Homo sapiens: one gene and its partners. The protein of the gene in region 1 purifies or fractionates together with the protein of each later gene. This does not show direct contact. Each region holds a gene or a part of one and is shown in the gene's direction. Other genes may lie near its edges. The genes, in order: EYA2, DNAJB12, PNKD and SCO1.

The links.
Region 2: the proteins of EYA2 (region 1) and DNAJB12 purify together in Homo sapiens (affinity purification with mass spectrometry, with the first as the bait; one large-scale study listed by BioGRID). This does not show direct contact.
Region 3: the proteins of EYA2 (region 1) and PNKD purify together in Homo sapiens (affinity purification with mass spectrometry, with the first as the bait; one large-scale study listed by BioGRID). This does not show direct contact.
Region 4: the proteins of EYA2 (region 1) and SCO1 purify together in Homo sapiens (affinity purification with mass spectrometry, with the first as the bait; one large-scale study listed by BioGRID). This does not show direct contact.

The regions. Positions count from the first base shown.
Region 1 is NC_000020.11:46,900,534-46,906,600, forward strand, and holds part of EYA2 (protein phosphatase EYA2), read left to right. Parts: exon of another isoform or gene 1-732; intron 733-893; exon of another isoform or gene 894-1,215; intron 1,216-6,067. UniProt on the Homo sapiens protein: Functions both as protein phosphatase and as transcriptional coactivator for SIX1, and probably also for SIX2, SIX4 and SIX5.
Region 2 is NC_000010.11:72,347,204-72,353,270, reverse strand, and holds part of DNAJB12 (dnaJ homolog subfamily B member 12), read left to right. Parts: intron 1-6,067. UniProt on the Homo sapiens protein: Acts as a co-chaperone with HSPA8/Hsc70; required to promote protein folding and trafficking, prevent aggregation of client proteins, and promote unfolded proteins to endoplasmic reticulum-associated degradation (ERAD) pathway.
Region 3 is NC_000002.12:218,334,808-218,340,874, forward strand, and holds part of PNKD (probable thioesterase PNKD isoform 1 precursor), read left to right. Parts: intron 1-4,975; coding exon 4,976-5,091; intron 5,092-5,221; coding exon 5,222-5,334; intron 5,335-5,920; coding exon 5,921-5,979; intron 5,980-6,067. UniProt on the Homo sapiens protein: Probable thioesterase that may play a role in cellular detoxification processes; it likely acts on a yet-unknown alpha-hydroxythioester substrate.
Region 4 is NC_000017.11:10,672,454-10,678,520, reverse strand, and holds the end of SCO1 (protein SCO1 homolog, mitochondrial), read left to right. Parts: 3' UTR 1-6,047; downstream 6,048-6,067. UniProt on the Homo sapiens protein: Copper metallochaperone essential for the maturation of cytochrome c oxidase subunit II (MT-CO2/COX2). Not required for the synthesis of MT-CO2/COX2 but plays a crucial role in stabilizing MT-CO2/COX2 during its subsequent maturation.

The DNA.
Region 1 (6,067 bases):
GCTATGCTGAAAACATATACACTTCTGTTTAAGAAATGAGAAAAACACAGAAAAATTCCACACAGTAATTGCTTTTACGTGAGTTTTAAATGTCATTGTTTGACTTATGTCAAAAAGCCCCCTTAGCCAGTTCTCTCATACTCCGTTACCAAATATCTCACCTTAAAAACAGCAAATGTTGGACTTCATTTTGATGATCTTTGAGGCTTTCAGAGATATCCTTAGTCCTAGTGGAAACATTCCAAATTTTTAGATTGTGCAGGCCATTTTTTTAAGGTTACTTAGATATCGATTTTATTTTCTTGACCCAAAATGAGAAAACACGGGGAATTCTCAAAAGCTTTTTACAGGCTGCTATTACGAGAAGAGAAGCCAAACCAACATGTATTAGGTCATGCGCTTGAAGTGCATAAATAAGCCCTATGAAGGTCACCAAACAGGGTGAAAACCACTAGTTCTCGTTACCTTGGCCACCTCTAAATTCCTGCCTGTTAGACGTGTTTGGTTGAAGTGGACACAGAAAGCGGGTTTCCGAGCCCGTGGTTGAAAGATCTCAATTTGACTTGGGTCCTCAAGGCGTCCTTGTGGTAAAGGGAGATAGGAAGGCTGAAATTCTGGTCTCCTCCCCATGGCTCCCTCTCACGGTTCCGGAGAAAAAGCAGGTACTGGGGCCTTCTCTTACTCCAAAGCAGATGTTTCCTACCTGGTATTCGGATATGCGGAAGTCAGAAGCTGAAAATAAAATGAAATGAAAATGTTCCTTCTGGTCAGTTTCTTCACCTCCCATTCCCTTCCTATAGTCACTTTGTGGTTAAGGTATTCATGGTTTCCAAAACAATTTTTTGTTCCCACTATGTTTTCTAGCATTTAAGATGCAAGGTATAAGTACTCACCTTTAAATCTCTATTGATTGGCAGCTTCCTGAAATACAGAGTCAGAGAGCGTGTCCACCACGTCCTGAGTTTGGTACCAACCCAGGTGCTGATGGAAATTCCAAGTAGGGAGAAAACGTCCTCTTCGGAGAGGCAGGGTGTCAGCGCAAAGAGGTTATTTTCTTTTGTGGGTGTGTATTATTTGCACATATCAGGACTTTTGTTTCAGGGTGTTCTAGAAACATTGATCTCTCCAGCAAAGTTCTGCGTGTCCTTCTTGGTTGGGAAGGGAGCGGAGAGGAAGGAGCCCCGAGGAGAATCGTGCACCTTTGGCCTTTTGTGTGACTCCTAGAGTAGAGGGAAGCCTCCGCTGCTCGGAAGGTGTCACGTGGTATAACAAGTTGTGACTTGTGCCTGTGTTGTCAACAGAGTTTTAGCCCCGTCCAGACATGAAAAAGAATGGAGCCCCGAAGATGATTCACCTCCGGTCTGCGATGGGCCCAAGCTGTCCAGTGCTCTCCTCTTGCTAAACAGACCATACTCCCTGGAGGAGTTAATGGCTGGGGTGTGGAGAGAAGACCGGTAGGAGGGGAGAAAGAATGCCTTAAACTCAGCAAATGTCTAAAACGCTCAAAATGTCTCAGCATTGCTCAGGCACCCACAAGAAAGACAAACTGATAAAAGGACATAGAATCAGGCTTTTTTTGAGGGGGAAGCACAGAGAGGTTGGGGGTTTGCTAGAGGTTTGATCTAGAGTGGACAATTTTTCTAACACCTTGGGACCCGATTTTGGAAATGTCTTCCTGTAGCCTTGCTGTCATTCCTTTGTGCTTATTTTTAGTGAATTAGTTTTGGGGATTTTCTTTTGTTTTTAAGAAAACACAGAGTTGTAAGACTTGTTTGGGAATCACAGGTTTTATTGAACACTTATTATTTATTGAATATTTATTATGTCCCAGGCATTGTGCTGTGGAAATACTTTATATGTTTTGTCTCCAAATGGCAGTAGATGGAACGTGCTGTTATTATTATTTCTATTTTACAGATGTGGAAACTGAGTCTGGAGAGTAACTTGTCCAGGATCACATGGCTTATGCCAGAGCCAGGATTAAACCCAGTTTTGATTCCTAACCACTAGGATGTCCAGCCTGCTCCCGTGGTATAACAAGAACTTCCCTTTCTCCATCTGTCTGCCCTGGAGAGCTAGATTTTAAAGTCCTTTTCCACTTGCATTGCCTTATGGATATTTATCGATGGTTAGGTACAAAAATCAGGTTGAGAAAGTAAGAGACGCCAGCAGATTCTCACAAGATTTTGAATCTGCCCTTGTAGAAATGAATGAATGTTTCAAGCTGGACCTATGGAAATGGTCGTAGCATCACTGCAGTTAGTGGCCTAAGTCATTGCTTACAGCTGCTCTTGCCCTATAACCGCAGGGTTGAACAGCCGTACTACAAAGACCATACGGCCTGCAAAGACTATCTGGCCCTTTACAGAAAAAGTTTGCTGACCTCTAAGCTATTGCAATATGACAAGACAATCCTTGTAGACCAGAAATAACATGCACTTGGGACATTTCGTATACCATTTCAATGATTTATTATTTATCAGGTGCCTCCAATGTGCTTGACACATTGCACAGTGATAGGGGAAAATTACAAGTGACTTCATTCCTTCATCCATTTACTTAACAACACTTATTTAGCTGTGTTCTGGGCTGTTTACTGGAGAGCCAGAGGTGAGAAGGACCAAATCCAGCATCTCCGGTAGGAGGATCCCAATGTGTTCTCACCAGTATCCCATGGCCTCTTCTTTCCTGAGGGTGCAGAGGGTGTTGACATGACTTTTTGAGCTTTCTAATGTTTGAGCAGCAGAATGGAAGCAACACCTCAGTCTGTAGACCCTCACCCACAGAAGCTATGCCTGGTTCAGTAAGAGCAGTGCCTCGGCTTCTGCACCTGAAACCGCACTAGGCATATAGGACTTACCAGTGCCCCAGGCTTACTCGGCCGACAGCAACTCTCTGCTTCCCTCAATGCGTTGTGCAGAATGAGGAGGAATGTAGAGAATCAGACTTTCCAAACCTCAGCCTGGGTACTGACTTTCAGCCTCGAGATTAAGAGCTTGAGTCCAGGAGCCAGGCTGCTCAGGTTACACTTCCCCTCAGTGTTAACCTACTCCTGCGTTTAACTTGGGGGTAAGTTACCAGACTTTTCGGTGCCTCAGTTTCTTCGTCTGTAAAGCAGGGTGAATAATAATGCACCTTCCTCAGAAAGCTATCGTGGAGATTGAGTTAATAAACATGAAGTGTTTGGAACTACGGCTGGCAAGTGGTATGAATTATATCAGTGTCAGCTACAGTTATTATTATTATTTATGAATTTGACCTGAAGCAAATTACTTAGACTCTTTGGGATGATAATAATAATAGTAACAACAATAATAAAATAACTTTTCATAGTGCCATTGTGAGAATATAAATGAGGCGATACATGGAAAACACTTAGCTTTGCTACACTGCCTGCCTCCATTCAATGTTCAATGAGCTAGCTATTGAGATTATGGGGAACAGTGCACTGGATCAGTGCGGTGTCTATAAGCTATTGATCAGTTGAGTCATTTTAGGTATCGAGAGAATGTTGGGCAGTGGTCGATAGCACAGGCCCTGGACTCAGACAGATCTGGCCTGAGCCTGAGTCAGTCCATCACTCACGGACTGCCATCTCCAGCAGGGGTCTGACCCTCTCAACGTCCCAGACATCGGAGACAGCAGTTAACTGTTCCTGGGGTGGTTGGGAGGCTTAAAAGAGTGGCTGGCACACCGAGCACAGAGCAGGGTGTTTGGCACATAGTAAGCACTCAATAAATGGTAGCTTGTATTATTACCACCCCCATTTCTTGCTGTACCCCCACCCCCAAGAAAGCACTGAACATTAGTAAATTTTAATTTGAAAATAAAAGAACACATTTTAAAACTGCCAAACAGATTTAAAATAATATTCATTACACAAAATTAAAATATTCTATTAAAGCCAGACTTTGGGCTCAGACCAAATTTTTATAACCCAAGCTTAAAGGCCAGGGAGTCCCCCAGCCACAATGGGGACATTGTGATTGAACTTGAGACTTCAACGCTGCTATTGAGCAGTCTTTGAAATGCATGTTTCCCCTAAAATAAAAGGGAAGTAATGGGAAGGAAAAAAATGAGGTTCTTGCTCCCCTCAACAAGCCTTAATGAATTGGAAAAGAAAAACAAAATATTTCTCATTTTTCTCCTGCTACTCGATCCTGCCAAAGACGCACGGCCCCTCCCAACCCTGGCTTTGAATGGTGCCCACTCAGAACCTTCCAGATCTGATATGCTATATGAGCAAACCTAATCTAAGTTGTAACATTGTAGTCTTCACCAGGTTTTACAGATGGCGGATTGTATCACTGGGAATCCAGAATGGGGAGCCCAAATTCCTAGGTTCAAGTCCTAGTTCTGCCTCAGTTTCCCTATTCACAAAATAGAGACAGTCCTCCTACTGCATAAAGTGGTGGTGGGAGTCTGAACGGTTAGCTCTCCCCATGGATGTTTTAATCTTCTGCTGTTACCTAATGAATGAAACTTGCCCTGAGTTCTGGGACTTTGAAAAATTAAAGTATACAGGTATGCCTCTGAGAGTTATAAATTAAAAAAAAGTCTATTCAGGGAGGAGAATGGAGGAGGGAAGAAGGAGACATAAAAATGGCTCACAGGAGTTATTATGTGACAGACACTTTCACAAAGCTCATTTAATCCTCTCAAAAAAAAAAAATACATGATATACATGTGTCCATTTAACAAACATGGAAACTGAGACTTGGACAGATCGAGTGACTGCCCAGCGGCATTCCATTCCAGGTCTGTGTGACCCAAAGCATGGGCCTGTTGTACCACATGACCCACAGCCCTCCTGGAACAAGGTCACAAACAATCATGGTGGACTGGAGAGACTCCCCTGACCAACCAGTTATTTATGATCTATTCTTACATTTCAATAGCATCCTTCATCCTCAATGAGCCTGAGTTGCTGTGGCCTTTTACCCCACATTCCATTGAGAACCAGTAGATTTTTTCTTGAACAGCACATGGAAAAAGTAACGTAAGTGGGTTGCAAAATCCTTTTCTGGATGAAATCCTTCAAGAATCCCTGCCATTTCTTGCCAACCGGAATGAAGTGACTTCCTCCTCAGACCAGGCCAGGCCCTTGGCTATGGTGTGGGACCATGAGACAGAGTTGTCTGAGGCTGGGCAGCTCCTGGAGAGGGTATGGGGTCCCCTCTATCACCAACCTGCTGTGTGTCTTCGGGCAGATCACAAGAGCCCTCTGAGCCCCAATCTCCTCATCAGCCCATGGAGCAGACACCTTCTATATAGGATTTGTTATACGACTTAAATAAAATGACAGTGGAATACTTAGGGTACTGTGGAATTGGACCCATTCCCAGGAGTACTCAAAGAAAGGGGAGAAAATGAAAGTTACTTGCCCCAGGCACATTCCTTACTGTTCTTCAGGTAGCTACCGTTTGGGGACTTTAGACATTCTGGAAGAATCTGTTAGTCTCTGAAGGGCAGACTTCTTTTTAATGATGTGGGCACCCTTTCCACATTAACTTGAAATGTACATGGACATTTTTTTTCTTTAGAGTTCTGTCTCTATCTTATTATGCATTTGGAAAAGATATAAAAAGCATTTGAAACAAATGGTTTTACAATTTTTTACTGCTTAAGACAAAAATGATTTAAAAACCAAGTCCATCAAGTAATTGATAGCAAAAGTGGCACACAGCCATGGCAGAGTTCATGAGGGAAGTTTCAGAAACACGAATCTGATGATGTGAAGCTTTCCCTGTGATCTATTCATTTAAAATAAAACATTTTAGTTTTAAAACTCATCCCCGCAGGCTGCGTACGACAAATTCCACCCAAATACCCAGAACCTTTTACTAACCAGAATTGCAATGCTGTGCTGCTTTCAGGGGAATAAAATGAAACAAATGCAGTCTCTCGGGGACATTGGTAAAGTCATCTCAGAGTACATCAGTGTCCGGGCACATCTAGTCTGTGTCTTGTATCTTTGAAAGAAGAATAACTAACCTTTGGATGACTGTAATGTTGATAAAAAATAATCTCTGAGGGCTAACTTTATGCCGGGATATGTTCCGAAAGA
Region 2 (6,067 bases), on another chromosome or scaffold:
GAATTCTGCCTGACACTGATGCTGCTGCGGGCTCAGGAGCAGGCAGCCAAGAAAGGATGGGCCACAGGGCCTCTGGGGATCTTTCTGTCAGCAGGCCCCTGCACCAGTTCAGGAGCTTGAAGGAGTGTCCTCTCTGGGGCTCAGGCTCTGGAATTTGCTGAGACAGAAGAACCACCTGCATGCATATTTGTCATATTTGTGCTTTTCTGGAAAGACTATGAGACTATACGCCTTATGCATCCGTGTAAACTTTACCATCTGCAGCCCTCCACTGAGCTGACAAAGACCTGGGATTAGTTTAGGTCTGGGACAGGGAAAGATCTTACTTCAAAAATAGAGGGCAGGGCTACCCACTGGGCTGGCTACCTGCCTCCCCAGGGGGAGTAATACAGATATATTAGGTGGCGGTCTATTGCTTTGGGTTTAGGCTCATCCCAGATGCTCATTCAATGCAGCAGACTTTTGTTGAAGATCATTTATGTTTTGTTTGCAAAGTCCTCTGCTTGGTGCTAGCAAGATTGGTAAAATGTGATCCCTCACCTCAAAAGAGCTTATAATCTAGTGAAAGAGACAAAACTTACAGAAACAAATATTACAAGACAGAACTGTAATTAAACAAAAAATAAACCCAAGGTTAGACGCTGAGGACTTAAGGACAGGCATGAAAAAATCAGGCCCCATCATCCATGGGTTCACAGTCTGATGGTGGGGAGGAGGTGCGGAGGACAATCTCCTGAACATTAAATTATCAGCAGTTTAGTGAGTGCTGTAGCAAGTGCATAAAAATAATGTTATCTCACAGTGAGGGAATGCTTTGGGGATGACAGGAGTTAACATTTGAATTGTGCTTTGGAGGACGGTGTGAGACTTGAGGAAAGGCATCCTGGAAGAAGACAAAGGAGCTGAAAGTTGTAACGTTTGGGGGAAGAGATCAAAGTGTAGCAAGATTTAGAGGCAGTGGAGGTGGTAATTCGTATACAGAGAGGATTAAGTTTGGGAAATAAAATGGGGCCAGATCATAGAAATCCTTTTCTACCAGGCCAAGATATTTTCACCTTATTCTGTAGTTAGTGAGGAAACCATTGAGGTTTTTGATAGCAGGAATAAAGTACGGGCACTGTTGTTAAAAGAGAACAGCATGAAAGGTTAATGAGAGGGAAGAGAGCTTCAGGGCAGGAAGCCAATAGGAGAGAATTGCCTTGAGCTGGTTGGATATTCTGAGGGCCTGGGACAAGGCAGTCATGGATAAGGCTAAGGTCCCTGGAAAAGAGGCACCAGGCCTGTGTGAGAGAGAGGTGCAGAGGAGAATCAGATGGGATGCTGGGGAATCAGAATTGAAGCCCCTGTGACCAGGAAGAAACCAGGCTGAAGAACTGAGATGGGAAGAGATGAGCAGAGTGGGAGGTGCCAGTGGGATAGTCCAAAGGAGCTGTCAGCCTGGAACTCAGGAGAGCGCTCCAGGTTACAGGTGAAAGTGTGGTATCGTCTGTTCCCTGGAGCTCACTGGAGTTGTGCATGGCTGAGGTCACTGTGGGAAAGTATAGACCATGGAGAGAAAGTTGCTGCAGGCACAATGGCAGGCAACACCTGCCCTGAGCCCACAGGCAAAGGCAGAGGAAGCAACAGATTGAGATGGAGCAACAGGAAAAGGCAGTCCCCGGAGAGGGCAGCGGCCAGGTAGCCATGGAGAGGTAATGGCAGCAGGTGGTGAGCAGCCCTGTGTGATGCCGCAGGCACTGCATGGGAAAAGGACAAGTTAAGAGTTGAAAAGGGAAGGATCGAGAGCATGGGCAGAGGATGGTCTTGGAGAGGTGGAAGGGCAGAGAGGGGAGAGTCACGAGAGAGGGGAGGCTCAGAGCAACCTTGAAAGGATGAGGGACCTCACACTGTTGGCCTTTGCAGCAAAAAGGGATGTGAGGGGGCTTGAAACTCCTGCTGCAGGAGGTGGGACAAGGAGGCACTGAGTTAAACTGCAAAGCAGTAGCTGGGCCCTAAGCTGGGAGGTCACAGACTAGAGATGGTGGAGCCAGTCAGTCCCTTTCTGGGAGTTTCTGTCCAGTAGCTGGCAGCCTGGTAAGCCATTGGCTTTGACTCAGGCTTTGTAACAAATGTGGAAGGTGCCAGATTTCCCAGGGAGCTCACGAGAGCATTTGTAGGCCTCAGTTTCCCCAGCATACAAAGAGAGGATTGGCTGGGATGATCCTGAGGTTCCTTGCAGCTCAGGCTATCCAATGTTCTGTGAAATGGTTGACTCTGGGCTAAGTCATGAAGGCCAAGCTGGGAAGGCCAGCCCACAGGAAAAGGAGACGGATTGCTGAGGGATTCTGCATTCAGAGTCCAGGAGTGAGAGATGTTCTGGTGCTGGCGAGGTCCGGGGTGGGGTTGTACCCTTCAAGTCAGTCAACCTTCATGAGCCCCACTGTGCACTTAGCCCCCTTCCATTCACTGTATTTCACAGAATCTTATTTACCCCTCAGAGCACTCCTATGAGAGCAGAGATCGTCTCTCCACTCAGGAACCAGCTAACCTGGCAAGGCCACATGGCTAGCCAGCAAAGACCCAGAGCTGTCCATCTCCAATCCCAGGCCCTTTTCTGACTCACTGTGAGCACCGTAGGTACACAGAGCCCAGAAACTCAGCTACTCACTTACTAACAAAGTCACGGTCAGAGACAACACTGTATATTTGCTGGGCATTGGGCTGAGTTTTTTGCTGGCATTCACTCATTTCCTCTTTTAGCCTGTATGATGGAGATAGAGTTTTGCACAGATGAGCTAAGTTACCTTGTCCAAGATGACCCTTCTAGCAAATGGCAGAGCTAGGTTTGAACCCATCGGGCAGTCTTTTTTTTTTTTTTTTTTTTTTTTTTTTTGAGACAGGGTCTCACTCTGTTGCCCAGGCTGGAGTGCAGTGGCACAATCACAGCTCACTGCAGCCTCAACCACCCAGGCCCAAGTGATCCTCCCACCTTAGCCTACCAAACAGCCGGGACCACAGGCATGTGCCACCACACCTGGCTAATTTTTTTATTTTCGTAGAGACAGGGTCTTCCTGTGTTGCCAAGGCTGGTCTCGAACTCCTGAGCTCAATCCATTCTCCTGCCTTGGCCTCCTAAAGTGCTGAGATGACAGGTGTGAGCCACTGCCCGGCCAAATCTAACTCTAGTCTGGGTTCAGTGGCTTTGGCCATAGAAATCCTCTCAGCTCTACCTCAGGTGCCTCTCCACCGCAGCTCTGTTCTCTTCTATCGAATTCCCTTCCTTTTCTAAGTCTGCCAGCTTTACTGAGAAGGTAACATTAAGCTGTTCTGTCTCTTTTTGTGACATTGCCTGTCAGCCTCTGTGCCATGAGGGATGTAAGCATGAAGCTGTCACATCCCCCAGGCCAGAAGAGAGACCCTACTTGCCAGCAACTGGAAATCTTTAATTTCCAACTCAAGCAGAAAGCTTCTATGTGACCCAGGGCACCCCCATTCTCCTTTGGGCTCTCTTTCTGTACTGTAGGGAAATTAGAGTGGCTGATTCCCTGTAACTGCCCTGAAAAGCTTCCAGAATCTTCTCTGAGAGGTACAAGAGAGAGCCTGTCCCATCTCCTGGCTAGTGCTCCTGCTCATCTCTGGTAGTTGAATAACTGGTTATTTTGCCCTTAGGATCTGCCAGGCTCAGCCTGGGCCACCAGAACTTCCAGAGGAACTGAAATAATAAAGAGCTTCTTGAAAAGCTCTAGGAAACAGCATACTGCCTCCTCCTCCTGCCCCGCCTTGACCAATATCTCTTCATCTTTCGGTTTCTCTTGCCATCCCCTTGGTAGCTGGCATGGACCTGGTATCTGGGATGGCCTGAAATCTCATGGTTACTACTGGTTCCAGAGTCTGCTGAGCGCTGAGTCTTTGCCTTCCTGAGCCTTGGAGCTCCCCCGCTACCCAGCCCTCCTCCTCCCCAGCCCCCACCACAGGTTCCCTCACTTCCCTGGCCAGCCCACTTCTGTGGCCAGACACTTCATCAGCCTTGAACCTTCACTCTCTGTCAGACTCGGCACAGGTGCTTACACACATTATCCCATTTCATCCTCCGCCACCGTGACGAAACCAGGGTTCAGAGAGATTTCATAGATCAGCCAGGGTCACACTGCTAGGAATGGCAGAGCTGAGATTTGAATCTGGGCCTTTCTGAATTTGATGTCTCTTCTATGCTTTTGCTTGCATCCCTGTCCCCGATCCCCACCCCATCAGACACGTGCAGCCCAGGATAGCAGCGTAGTTAAGAGCATGGACCCTGGAGCTGGACATCCTGGGGTTCGAAGGCCCCTCTGCCTCCTAACCAGCTGTGTGGTCATGGCAGCAGTCTGCCACAGTACCCTCTTCCTACAGTGGGGTGGGGTAGGTAATGAGACCTTCCTTCTAAGGCTGCTGTGACAATTAAATGAGCTAATGCAGATCACTGTGAAAGTACCCACCTGACACACATCACTGGGTAAGAAAAATGATTGTTGCTATTGTTCCTCCCCAAGCACCCTCTCAGGGTTTGCTACAGGAGCCCGCCTCCCTTACTCAGAGCAACCCCAGCTGTGAGCTCCTGTGTTTGGATTTCCCAGTTGAAGACTCAGCAAGATCACACAAGCTCGGAGTGCGGCAGCAGTGGCCCAGGGCACAGTGCTCCACTGGAGCCCCATACTCTGTTCCCAGTGAGACTGGCTCTCAGCCTGTTGGGTCAGACCTCAGTGGGTCGCACTGGTGGGTGTGGCACCCAGCATGGCGTCTTCAGGCCAGCAGGCACCTGGCGTGTTTGAAGGAATGTGCTGGGATGTGCTGCTGTCCTTCCTTAGCACAGAGGGATGCTGGGTCCCTGCAGTGATCCAGATGCCTGTTTTCCCAGCTGGTCAGCTTGTCAGAGGCTTTAGGATTTTACTACCCAGGGCGCTGGGGCCCAGGCCTGACTGAGGTTTCGTGCCTGGAATAAATGGACACAGGGACCTGCTGCCAGAGACTTGGGCCCTTCCTCATTTAATCTGCAGGAACCACAGGCTTGTTTTTGCTTGCTTTTGTTTTTTTGAGATGGAGTCTTGCTCTGTTGCCCAGGCTGGAGTGCAGTGGCACAATCTCAGTTCACTGCAACCTCTGCCTCCCGGGTTCAAGCGATTCTGTGCCTCAGCCTCCCGAGTAGCTGGGATTACAGGCGCCTGCCACCACGCCGGCTAATTTTTGTATTTTTAGTAGAGACGGGGTTTCACCATGCTGGCCAGGCTGGTCTCAAACTCCTGACCTCAGGCGATCTGCCCGCCTCAGCCTCCCAGAGTGCTGGGATTACAGGTGTGAGCCACCATGCCTGGTGGGCTTGGTTGTTTTTGTTTTTGTTTTTCTGAGACAGAGTCTCATTCTATTGCCCAGGCTGGAGTGCAATGGCATGATTTCGGCTCATTGCAACCTCCGCCTCCCAGATTCAAGCCATCCTGCTGCCTCAGCCTCCCTAGTAGCTGGGATTACAAGCGCCCACCACCATGTTCGGCTAATTTTTGTATTTTAGTAGAGACGGGGTTTCACCATGTTGGCCAGGCTGGTCTTGAACTCCTGACCTTGTGATTCGCCCGCCTCGGCCTCCCAAAGTGTTGGGATTACAGGCGTGAGCCACAGCGCCCAGCCGGGCTTGGTTTTCAATAGCCATGATGCTGCCGAGGGTGATAGTTAATGTCCTGTATAGACTCCAGACATTGAAGAGGACATTTGGCATGGCCAACCACTTGCATTAGAAAAATGTGAAAAATAGCAAGTTGTGAGCACAGCAGATACTTCTTTTGGTCTCCTACCATCTGTGTCCCCCTTGGGCAAACTCATTTCCCCCATTCCTCTTTACAGCTAAGCAAAGGCCTCCAGGAAGGCTTCCTGACTGATCCCACCTGAAACAGAGGGTCCTGCTAAGCGGGGTCCCCTTTGCAGGGTACTTTTCCCAGCTTGGCACTCAACATGCCAAGTCTGTTAAACTCACTACTTTGAGATCTTAAAAATCTGAAGGGTTGACTGGGCACAGTGGCTCATGCCTGTAATCCCAGCACTTTGGGAGGCCAAGGCAGGC
Region 3 (6,067 bases), on another chromosome or scaffold:
ATGGCCTTTATAATTAGTGGTTATTTTGTGAAGGAGATACTTTGAGATTATGCAAATATCCTCTTTCTCATCATACTTGGGTGATTTGACTGGGGTCTCCAGGTGTTAAGAGTGTGCTCTTGTGTGTTAGAAACTCTCGGTGTTAGCCTGGGAGCGAATCAAGACATCTTCTCTTCAAAAAAATAATAAAAATAATTAGCTGGGCATGTCTGCTCATGCCTGTAGTCCCAGCTACTCGGGATACTGAGGTGGAAAATCGCTTGAACCCCAGCGTTTCAGGCTTCAGTGAGCTGTGACTGAGCCACCACACTCCAGCCTGGCTGACAGAGGAAGATCCCATCTCTTTAAAAAATAAATAAATAAATAAATAAATATAAATATAAATAAAAATGGGCTGGGCGCGGTGGCTCACGCCAGTAATCCCAGCACTTTGGGAGACTGAGGCAGGCAGATCACCTGAGGTCGGGAGCTCTAGACCAGCCTGATCAACATGGAGAAACCCTATCTCTACTAAAAATACAAAATTAGACGGGCGTGGTGTCGCATGCCTGTAATCCCAGCTACTTGGGAGGCTGAGGCAGGAGAATTGCTTGAACCTGGGAGGTGGAGGTTGCGGTGAGCCAAGATCACGCCATTGCACTCCAGCCCAGGCAACAAGAGTGAAACTCCATCTGGAAAAAAAAAATGTTAATTGTCCTGTCTGTCCTACTAGATAGAACCTTCACAAGGACAGTGAGTTTGCCTTGCTCAGTGTGTGTTCAGTGCCTGGCCAATAGCAAGGATTCAGTAAATATTGTTGAAGAAATGTAAGTTGGCCAAATCTAATTTAGAAATAAAACCAAAAAAAAAAGAAGGCCTACGAAAAAGGAACATAAAGACAAATAAAGGTTGGCAAAGCCCTTCAACCATGTGCCCAGATTGCCAATCAATATAAACCCATGGGTACATAGAGCAGACAATGCAGTGATTAAACTTTACCTAAATCATATCTACAAATTGCCATGGAAACCTGCTTGGTTTTGACCCAACTGCTTGCAGACAAATCAGCTAGCTCTCCCCTTAGGGGTCTGAAGAGCGGCTGCCCCTGCTCCCACATACACGGTCAATCCTTGTAGAGACTTAGGGTCAGCCAGGCGTGGTGGCTCATGTCTGTAATCCCAGCACTTTGGGAGGCCAAGGCGGGTTGATCATGAGGTCAAGAGATTGAGACCATCTTGGCCAACATGGTGAAACCCTGTCTCTACTAAAAGTACAAAAATTAGCCAGGCGTGGTGGTGGGTGCCTGTAATCCCAGCTACTCGGGAGGCTGAGGCAAGAGAATCACTTGAACCCGGGAGGCAGAGGTTGCAGTGAGCCAAGATCGTGCCACTGCACTCCAGCACGGTGACAGAGTGAGACTCCATCTCAAAAAAAAAAAAAAAGTTTGGAAAAAATAGCCATTAAAAGTACTAAAATATGAAGCTTTTTTTCTTCTACAATCTCTATTTTGACCTGTGATGTTTTTAATTTGCTATTTAATGTCATTCTAAGTAAGAAGCATTTAAATTATTAGCAGGAATTTTACCATTTGCTTAATATTGTGCAATGCCTGTTTTAAATACAAATATAAGGACATTTAACTCCTGTAGAATCACAGAAACGACATAATTAATATTTCTTAGCTTATACATGGATGTGTATTTAGTTCTTACCAGGAGAGGGTCTCCTCTGTCACTCAGACTGGAGTGCAGTGGTGCAAACATGGCTCACTGCAGCCTTGACCTCCTGGGTTCAAGTGATCCTCCCACCTCAGCCTCCCAAGTAGCTGGGACCACAAGTGCATGCCACCATGCCTGCCTAATTTTTGCATTTTTAGTAGAGACAGGGTCTCGCCATGTTGCCCAGTCTGGTCTCAAAATCCTGGGCTCAAGCACTTCTTCCATCACCACCTCCGAAAGTGCTGGGATTACAGGAGTGAGTCACCACACCTGGCCTTCAATTCTTTTTTTTTTTTTTTTTTTTTTTTTCAGACAGAGTTTCACTCTTGTTGCCCAGGCTGGAGTGCAATGGTGTGATCTTCTTGGCTCACCGCAACCTCCGCCTCCCAGGTTCAAGTGATTCTCCTGCCTCAGCCTCCCAAGTAGCTGGGATTACAGGCGCCCACCACCACACCCTGTTAATTTTTGTATTTTTAGCAGAGATGGGGTTTTACCATGTTGGCCAGGCTGGTCTCCAATTCCTGACCTCAAGTGATCTACCAGCCTCTGCCTTCCAAAGAGCTGGGATTACAGGTGTGTGCCACTGCACCCAGCCTTCAATTCTTTTCTTTTTTTTTATTGAGATGGAGTCTCACTCTGTCGCCCAGGCTGGAGTGCAGTGGTGAGATCTCGGCTTACTACAACCTCAGCCTCCCAAGTAGCTAGGATTACAGGCGCCTGCCACCACGCCCAGCTAATTTTTGTAGTTTTAGTAGAGATGGGGTTTCACTATCTTGGCCAGGCTGGTCTTGAACTCCTGACCATGTGATCCACCTGCCTTGGCCTCCCAAAGTTCTGAGATTACAGGCATGAGCCACCGCGCCCGGCCTTCAATTCTTAATACGTGCACATTCTGCCAGCACTGTTGGCTTGCTAGTTAATAAGGAAGGATGGAAAGGAAAAGGATGGATTGGTTACCCTATCTTCCCTTTCCTTTCTATATCGCTATTTGCAGCATAAATAGGTGGATAACACAAAAGCAAGAAAGGATGCAGCAGAGTTCCTTGGTCATTCGTGTTTCTTAGAACACCTCTGTCTTTGTGCACTTGAAGCACGTTCTAGTTTGAACTGAAAGCTTGGCCTCTTGGGTCAGTCATAGGTGTGCACTCGCCTTGTACTTGCTTTGAGTCTTGTTGAACTCCCATGCGTTGTGTGTCCCCCAGATTTGTGTGCTCATGGGCATTGCAGACTCTGTATAGGTATGATAAGCGAGGAACGGAGCACACTCACTGTGTGTGTCTCTTGCTCCCTGCATGTCCCACTGTCCTATCAGGCTCCACTTGCAAGACACAAGGTCAAAGATAAAATCATTAAGAATTTCAGGGTCGGGCACGGTGGCTCACCCCTGTAATCCCAGCACTTTGGGAGGCCAAGGTGGGCAAATCACGAGGTCAAGAGATCGAGACCATCCTGGCCCACATGGTGAAACCCCATCTCTATTAAAAATACAAAAATTAGCTGGGTGTGGTGGTGCACGCCTCTAGTCCCAGCTACTCAGGAGGCTGAGGCAGGAGAATCGCCTGAACCTGGGAGGCAGAGGTTGCAGTGAGCTGAGATTGCACCACTGCACCCCTGCCTGACGACAGAGTGAGACTCCCTCTCAAAAACAAACAAACAAACAAAAATTTCAGGCTTGGCCAGGCACAGTGGCTCACACCTGTAATCCCAGCACTTTGAAAGGCCGAGGCAGGCGGATCACCTAAGGTCAGGAGTTTGAGACCAGCCTGGCCAACGTGGCAAAACCCTGTCTCTACTAAAAATACAAAAAATTGCCGGGCATGGTGGTGTGAGCCTGTAATCCCAGCTACTCGGGAGGCTGAGGCAGGAGAATCACTTGAACCTGGGAGGTGGAGGTTGCAGTGAGCCGAGATTGCACCACTGCACTCCAGTCTGGGCAACAGAGCGAGACTCTGTCTCAAAAAAAAAAAAAAAAGAATTTCAGGTGGGACACGGTGGCTCACACCTGTAATCCTAACACTTTGGGAGGCCAAGGCAGGAGGATTTGTTGAGCCCAGGAGTTCGAGACCAGCCTAGACAACAAACTGAGACCCCATCTCTACAAAAAAGATAATTGGGATTACAGGTGCCCATCACCACACCCGGCTAATTTTTGTATTTTTAGTAGAGACGGGGTTTCACCATGTTAGTCAGGCTGGTCTTGAACTCCTGACCTCAGATGATCCACCTGCCTCGGCCTCCCAAAGTGCTGGGATTACAGGCGTGAGACACCACACCCAGCCTCAGATGATTTTTTTTTTTTTTTTTTTGAGACAGGGTCTTGTTTTGTCACCCAGGCTGGAGTACAGTGGTGCAATCATGGCTTACTGCAGCTTCACCCTCCCGGGCTCAAGCAATCCTCCTGCCTCAGCTACCTGAGTAGCTGGGACCACAGGCGTGTGCCACCACGCCCAGCTATTCTTTTTTTTGTGTGTGTAGAGACCCTATAGGGCACAATGTTGCCCAGGCTGGTCTCGAACTCCTGGGCTCAAGTGATCCTCTCTCCTTCCCTCCCAAGGTGCTGGGATTACAGGTGTGAGCCACTGTACCCAACCTTCTTCAGATGATTAGGATGCATGCTAAAGTCTGACCACCACTGTTCTTTCTGAAATATTTTTTCTACCTCATTTCAGCCTCCTAATTCCTACTCCTTCTTCCCTGCAAATGTCACTTCATCAGAGGTGCTAGACCCTGGGCTAGATTAAACCCCTCACTCTCCAAGTCTCTCTTTTTTTTTAGACAGAGTCTCACTCTTTGGCCTGGGCTGCAGTGCAGTGGTGCGATGCCCAATTCTCCTGCCTCAGCCTCCTGAGTAGCTGGGACTACAAGCGTGTGCCACCACACCCGACTAAGTTTTGTATTTTTAGTAGAGACAGGGTTTCGCCATGTTAGTCAGGCTGGTCTCGAACTCCTGACCTCAGGTGATCCGCCCACCTCGGCCTCCCAAAGTTCTGGGATTACAGGTGTGAGCCACTGCGCCTGGCCTCTCCAATTTTCTTCTGTGAGTTCCTCAGTTCATGTCTCCCTGATAGATTTTGAGTTCTAGGTGTGTCCGTCTCATTCTCCATCTTGTCCTGAGTGCTAAGCAGGGCAAACAGTAGGCACATAATAAGTGAGAGTGGAATTGCATTGGCTCACAGGGTCACCAAAGGAATGGAGATGTGGGGCCTGCAGGCATCACGAAGGAGTCTAGGGGAGCTAGGGAGAAAAGGCTAATCATAGGCCACCCACTCGCCCTCTAGGTACAGCCTGTACACCCGCACCTGGCTCGGGTACCTCTTCTACCGACAGCAGCTGCGCAGGGCTCGGAATCGCTACCCTAAAGGCCACTCGAAAACCCAGCCCCGCCTCTTCAATGGTGAGCTCTGACTGCCCCGGCCAGCATCCCCCATTCTGTGCCCCCACCCTCCCCGCCTGCTCCCCTTCACATACCCCAGCCCCTGGGCTCCCTGCCTGTTACCCCGCCCACAGCCCATCTCTGTCCCCAGGAGTGAAGGTGCTTCCCATCCCTGTCCTCTCGGACAACTACAGCTACCTCATCATCGACACCCAGGCCCAGCTGGCTGTGGCTGTGGACCCTTCAGACCCTCGGGCTGTGCAGGTGAGGGGAGGGCAGGGAGCAGGGGGTGCCTGGAGTCACCTTGGGGACTGGCAGTTTCGCCTTGCTAGAGAGGGCTGACCCTTGTCCGTCTGCCCGTGGGATGTGTCCCATATGCTCCATGTTCACACGTGCACATGCGCACACATAGCCTGGGGAAGGGGGGTACAGGGCATGGCTGGGCAGAAGGGGAGAGCAGGAGTGGGGGATGCAGAGCCAGAGGGCTGGGGGTGTTGGCCCAGGACTCTGGGTCTAGTGAGTTTCCAGGCTGGCTTTCACTCCCATTGGCCCCCTTCAGACCCCCTTTCTTTCTGTCACCTCTGTCTGTCAGTATCTGGGTCTCTCTGTCTTTCCCTCCCATTCCTTATCTCTCTGTGTCTGCCTCTCTCTATGTACAAGTGTCCCTCTGCCTCCATGTGCCCCGTGCTTCACATTCCTGGATCTCTCCCCTCCAGCTCCATCCCTTTCCTCTGCTTCATCTCTCCATGCTCTCCTCTCCTCTCCACCAGCGCCCACACTCCTGGCTCTTGCTGCTTCAAGTGCCTCTTGCATCCTGCTCCCCAGTCTCCAAACCTCCTCTCTCTCGCAGGCTTCCATTGAAAAGGAAGGGGTCACCTTGGTCGCCATTCTGTGTACTCACAAGCACTGGTAAGGGGCTCCCGTCTTCCCTGGCCCACCCTTGTCCCAGCTGGGCTTGCCAGGACTGGGCCCATTGAGGACGGCCGGGGCCAGAGAT
Region 4 (6,067 bases), on another chromosome or scaffold:
TAGATAAGATTCAGTCTTCGTTCTCAGCTGTTGCAGGTTAAGGCTTGTGAAATGATCCAAAAAGGGAACAGCAGCTTTTGGAGAAAACTTTTATTTGTTCTTCATTCTAGTGTCAAGTTTAAAGGCTTGAAGTCAGAATGTTAGAAGTGGGGAAGGGGACCTTAGAGGTGACGTCTTCCAGATGTTCCTGTTTATGCACAAGGGGACAGTCTCGGAGAATTAAGGCGCAAAACTCGGGTCCCAATTTCTAGGTAGGTTCCTGTTTGTTCTGCTGCTATCGTGCGCTTATGGTGACTGTGTGAATCCAACCAAAACGGAGGTTCCGTATGCCAGTGGGGCAACGTTTTTCAGCTGCAAATCTTGGGAAATCAAAAGCAAGGCTGTTTTTTTTTTCTTTTCTTTTTTGAGACAGAGTTTCACTCTTGTTGCCCAGGCTGGAGTGCAATGGCGCAATCTCAGCTCACTGCAACCTCCACCTCCCAGGTTCAAGCAATTCTCCTGCCTCAGCCTCCCAAGTAGCTGGGATTACAAGCATGTGCCACCACACCCGGCTAATTTTGTATTTTTAGTAGAGACTGGGTTTCTCTATGTTGGTCAGACTGGTCTCAAACTCCCGACCTCAGGTGATCCGCCGCCTCGGCCTCCCAAAGTGCTGGGATTACAGGTGTGAGCCACCACGCCCGGCCTCAAGGCTGTGTTTCAGTGAAATATCCCTTGCAAATCTTTACCTGGGTGGGTTACAGTGTTTTCACTAGACTCTTCAATAGAATTAATATTTTAAGAAATGCCACTTGTTTATTTGAAAAGTATAAGAATCCTATCAATGCAGTAGGCATGAATGTATTCATGTGTCTGGCTGTTCATGAAGCAGCTGATATCTTAAGTGTAAGAGGTGAGATTTACTGACTACCAGTAAAATATGCGAGTTGGGAGGCTAATGATTTTAAATTGTAAATGCGTCTGCATAAGATCCTTTAAAATAGCTTTTATTGTTCTTAAATTTATGTTTAAAAGAAATTGACATTAATATTTTCAAATCATCCATAATCTCCCAAACCTTTTTTGGTTTTCTGTTTAGTACCATTTAAATCTTTGTGTATGTGTATATGAGCTACCTTTAAAAGAGCAGTCACCCATGCGAGCATTTGTTACCCAATTAGTTTGTACTTTTTTTTGGTTTTTATTTTGTTGTTGTTATTTGTTTCTTTTTGAGATGGAGTCTCGCTCTTCTCACGCAGGCTGGAATGCAATAATGGCATAATCTTGGCTCACTGCAACCTCCGCCTCCCAGGTTCAAGCGATTCTCCAGCCTGAGTCTCCCGAGTAGCTGGGATTACAGGCGCCCACCAGCACACCCAGCTAAATTTTTGTATTTTTAGTAGAGACGGGTTTCTCCATGTTGGTCAGGCTGGTCTCGAACTCTCAACCTCAGGTGATCCGCCCGCCTTGGCCTCCCAAAGTGCTGGGATTACACGCGTGAGCCACTGCGCCCGGCCTAGTTTGTGCTTTTTACTTACCAGTTAGGGGTTATATTACTGTGTAACAAAATGGACGGTTATTTCTATTCATTAACAAGATTCAAGTAATAGCCTCTTTAGCCACATATTCCTTAATAACACCTTTAGACCTTATAGGGGTAATTATTTTCTATATACTTTTCCAATGTATTTGAAAGTTTGTTGGCTCTTCTTCCGTAATTATACTATATCCTCAGTAAAGAAAGTTTGGCATACAGAAAAGTTGAAGGAAGAAAATTTTCAATCACTGTTGTTCCACTACCAAGAAATAATACTTGGAGGTATTTCCTTTCAATCTTCAACATGAGGATGCTAATGTCCCCCTCATAAGGGGCCTTAAAGTCACTGACTCTGTGCACTATTTCATGAGAACATTGATGTGGGTATTTAACCGAAAGAAAACTTGAGTTTTCTTTTTTTCCTTTTTATTGTGAAAATTTGGAAACTTATTCAAAAAGTAGAATAGTTAACTAATTGATGTACCCATCAGCAAGCTTCAGTGATTACCACCATTTAATTTTGTCTGCACCCCCCCACCCACTGCCACCCCAGCCCATTCCCAGCATGTGCCTCTGAAAGAGACCAACTTTGTCCTTTAAAAACAACCACAGTTGGCTGGGCACGGTGGCTCATGCCTGTAATCCCAGTACTTTGGGAAGCAAAGGCGGGTGGATCACCTGAGGTTGAGAGTTCGAGACTGGCCTGACCAACATGGAGAAACCCGTCTCTACTAAAAATACCAAAGTTAGCCGGGCGTGGTGGCGGGTGCCTGTAATCCCAGCTACTCGGGAGGCTGAGGTAGGAGAATCGTGTGAATCTGGGAGGCGGAGGTTGCAGTGAGCCGAGATCACGCCACTGCACTCCAGCCTGGGCAACAAGAGTTGTCTCAAAAAACAAAAAAGAAAGAAAGAAAAAAACAACCACAGTTTCATCAGCACAGCAAAAAGGTTTTTGTTTTTGCTCTTGGATTTTGTCGTTTGGTTTTTGCTTAATATCAAATATCCAGTCAGTGTAAACTCGTTTATAATTTGGTCCTTTGATTTCAAGGAGCTATGATGCAGTTCGTTGTGGGGATGTGTTGTCTCCATGTCATACATGTGACTTTGTCCATGTTTGCACCCAGTTCAAGGAAGACACAACCCTAGGGAAAGACAACCCTCCCCGCCAAGCCTCTCTTCCCATTCTTAAACATAGGGTGGCGTTATTCAGGTTGGACCAGTTTAAAAAGACTAACGCATTTGTCCTCGTTGTTGGGTGTTTTTTTTCTTTAAATTTGTAAAACAGGAATAATTGTGTTAGGATGAAGTATGATACTAGGAGAACAGGGAAAACTAACCCATCGTGTTAAAAGTCAGAATAGTGCTTAACTCTGGCAGGAGGTGAGATGGTTAGTAATTCAGAAGGGGGTGCCAGGAGAGCTTCCAGAGCCATTGAAATGTTCAGTAGCTTGATCTGGGTGATGATTTACATACATAAAAACATATTAAACTTTGAACTTAAGATTTATGCCTTTTACTGTTTGCACCCTATAACTCCAAAAGAAAAGTAGAGGGGAAAAAGAGTCCCTGCAAAAGGCAGTCTTGAAAGAAAGCAAGTCTGTGATGTGGAGAATGCATTGGACAGCTCTCAGCAATTTGCTGTAGCTTGGGCAGAGAGATAAAAGCTAATGCCAGCATCAGGTTGCCCAGGCGAGAGAAGGCCTGAAAGAAGACAGCGTGGAGAAAGTGTCAGCAAGCTTCAGCAACAGCAGGAGGCAGATGGTAGGAGAGTGGGCCTCAGGTGTGGTGTGGCAGAGCAGAGTAGCCACACTTAGGCCCCAGAGACAGTGTCTTCTCACCCTCAGTTGAAGGGGCAGGAAATCAATCGCTCTAGTCACCCCTAAGCTGGAGGACGGACCTAAAGTTGCCACAGCTTTGAGAGGCAAAGAAGTTTGCTCAGTGGCTTTTAGAGACTTCTAGGGCCCTGGGACCCTGACACTGAGGAGGAGCAAACTGAAGGGGAGAGTGGGCACATTCCTTGTTGGCTGCTGTGGTGAGCAGCAGCTGGTCGTTGTCAGTCAAGCTCCGGACCACTCTGATGATGCTCACTGCATTTTGATGGAGTAAGCCAGGGACATTACCACTGTGTTTGAGCCATCTGAAGTATTCCTGGGTGGGTCTGCAGTTGGCAGCCCGTGATCCTTTTTCCATTCAAGGATGATGCAAAGGTAAGGGGCCAAGGCTGAGCTCTGTAGATGCCTGTGAGAGCCTCCTGGTCTCAAGAGGTCATACCAAGGGCCTTGGCCACCAAGGTTTCGTGAGGACCTTGAGGTGGTTTCGCCATCACAATGTCAGACGTGTCACACACCATCTGGTATGTCCTCACTGTATAGAGGAAGAAGGGCCCAAGTGGTGAATTATCTACAAGTTTGTAGCAAAGCTAATACTCAGACTCCCTCTACAGCCTTGCTACTCAGTGTAGTCTGTGGTCCGGCAGTGTCACACCACTGGGGTACTTAGCAGAAATGCAGCTTCTCAGGCTCCACTCCAGCTCTCCTCAATCACAGTCTGTTTTTTTGTTTGTTTGTTTGTTTGTTTTGAGATGGAGTTTCGCTCTTGTTGCCTAGGCTGGAGAGCAGTGGTGCGATCTTGGCTCACTGCAACCTCCACCTCCCTGGTTCAAGTGATTCTGCTGCCTCAGCCTCCCAAGTAGCTGGGATTACAGGCGCCCGCCACCATGCCCGGTGGCGTGCATGGTAATTTTTGTATTTTTAGTAGAAACAGGATCTCGCCATGTTGGCCAGGCTGGTCTTGAACTCCTGACCTCAGGTGATCCACCCGCCTTGGCCTCCCAAAGTACTGGGGATTACAGATGTGAGCCACCACGCCTGGCCCACAGTCTGTATTTTAACAAGATCCCCACCTCAGTCTTAGGCACATGGATTCTCCTCAACCCCCAATACCACAGAGTCTATTAATTTTTACCCAATAGGGAAGGGGAAAAAGTCAAGAAAGAATAATGAATTAAGTAATCTTTCCCCCTCCAGGAAGCTCTTTATTTAATTTCGCTCCCATGAAACACAATTTGAAGAGTCTCTCAAATAAACAAATTCCATTTTCTGATAATTATTTAATTGCCCCACTTTTGAAATTTTTGTCAAAGACGACTGTCACTCCCTGTCAGAACTTCTATTCAGCACAGTATACCAAGCGTTTCTCCATCGAGTTGTTATAATATGATCAAAAAGCAGGGAGAGATGCTGCTTGGTTACCCTGTGGGGCCTTATCGGGGCTCAGTGCAGTCTTTCCATGTAGGCATTCTCAAATACTCAATTGAAACCTGATTGAGGATCATTTGATCTCTGTTGGCCCTAGTGCAGTAGGCTGCTGAGAACCACTGATGCAATAGACTGAGAGACTAACTGCCTGCTTCCCTGTCAGCCCAGGCTCTGCTAAGGCCGTCTTAGTTACAGAAGAAAGTGGGGCAGAGAGCCCTGCAAGGATTACATTCCATTCCTAACGGAGACAGGCAAGCGTTCAGTGCCCGAAGCAGGGCAGGCCTTTGTATGGCTCACTTTTCCCTGTACCAGCCTCAGCCCCGTACATTCAGAAAGCCCTGTCGGGAACGTGCGGGATCACAGCACAAGACAGTCATTCACTGATTGATTGACGACGTCAACATTGCGGAATACCTATGTTAAGCTGAGTACGAGGGATATAAAAAGTAGGCCCTGGAGAGTGCCTCTGGGATGCACATAACCAGACAAGATAAAGAAAAGGCAGATCACGAGATCAAGAGATCGAGATCATCCTGGCCAACATGGTGAAACCCCATCTCTACTAAAATTACAAAAATCAGCTAGACGTGGTGGCGGGCGCCTGTAGTCCCAGCTACTCAGGAGGCTGAGGCAGGAGAATCGCTTGAACCCGGGAGGCAGAGATTGCACTGAGCTGAGGTCATGCCACTGCACTCCAGCCTGGCAACAGGGCAAGACTCCATCTCAAAAAAAAAAAAAAAGAAAAAAAAGAAAAATTAGGGCAGCTTTTAGACATGAGGCCCCAAAGTGCCAACTAGTGCACCTAAACTTCAACTCTCTTTTGAGTGTTTTATGTATCTACTCAGCATCCAGTTGTAAATATGCAAAAATCAATGCCTACTGTATTTAAAAATTACTAAATTCACAATAACCACACAGAATCTATAATAAATAGAATCAATGTAATAATGACTCAGATCCAGGGGAAGAAAATTATAAAATTTTGGAAAAAATGATGAGCTATTAATTAAGAAAATAGTTTGTTCCTTGGTGAGAAGACTCAATGTAAATATGTCAGTTTTCTCCTGACTTAAGTCTTCAACACAGGCCTAATAATATTGCAGTGGCAAATGATTGCCAGGGGCAGGAGGGGATTTGGGGAAGTGGTAAAAATGATCTGTGTCTTGGTAGTGGTCGCTGCACAACTGCATACATCTGTGAAAACTCACTGAACTGCGCACTTTAAAAGGGTGAATTGTAATATACATACCTCAATAAACCTTACTTAAAAATTACAGTGTCTTTTTTTTTTGTA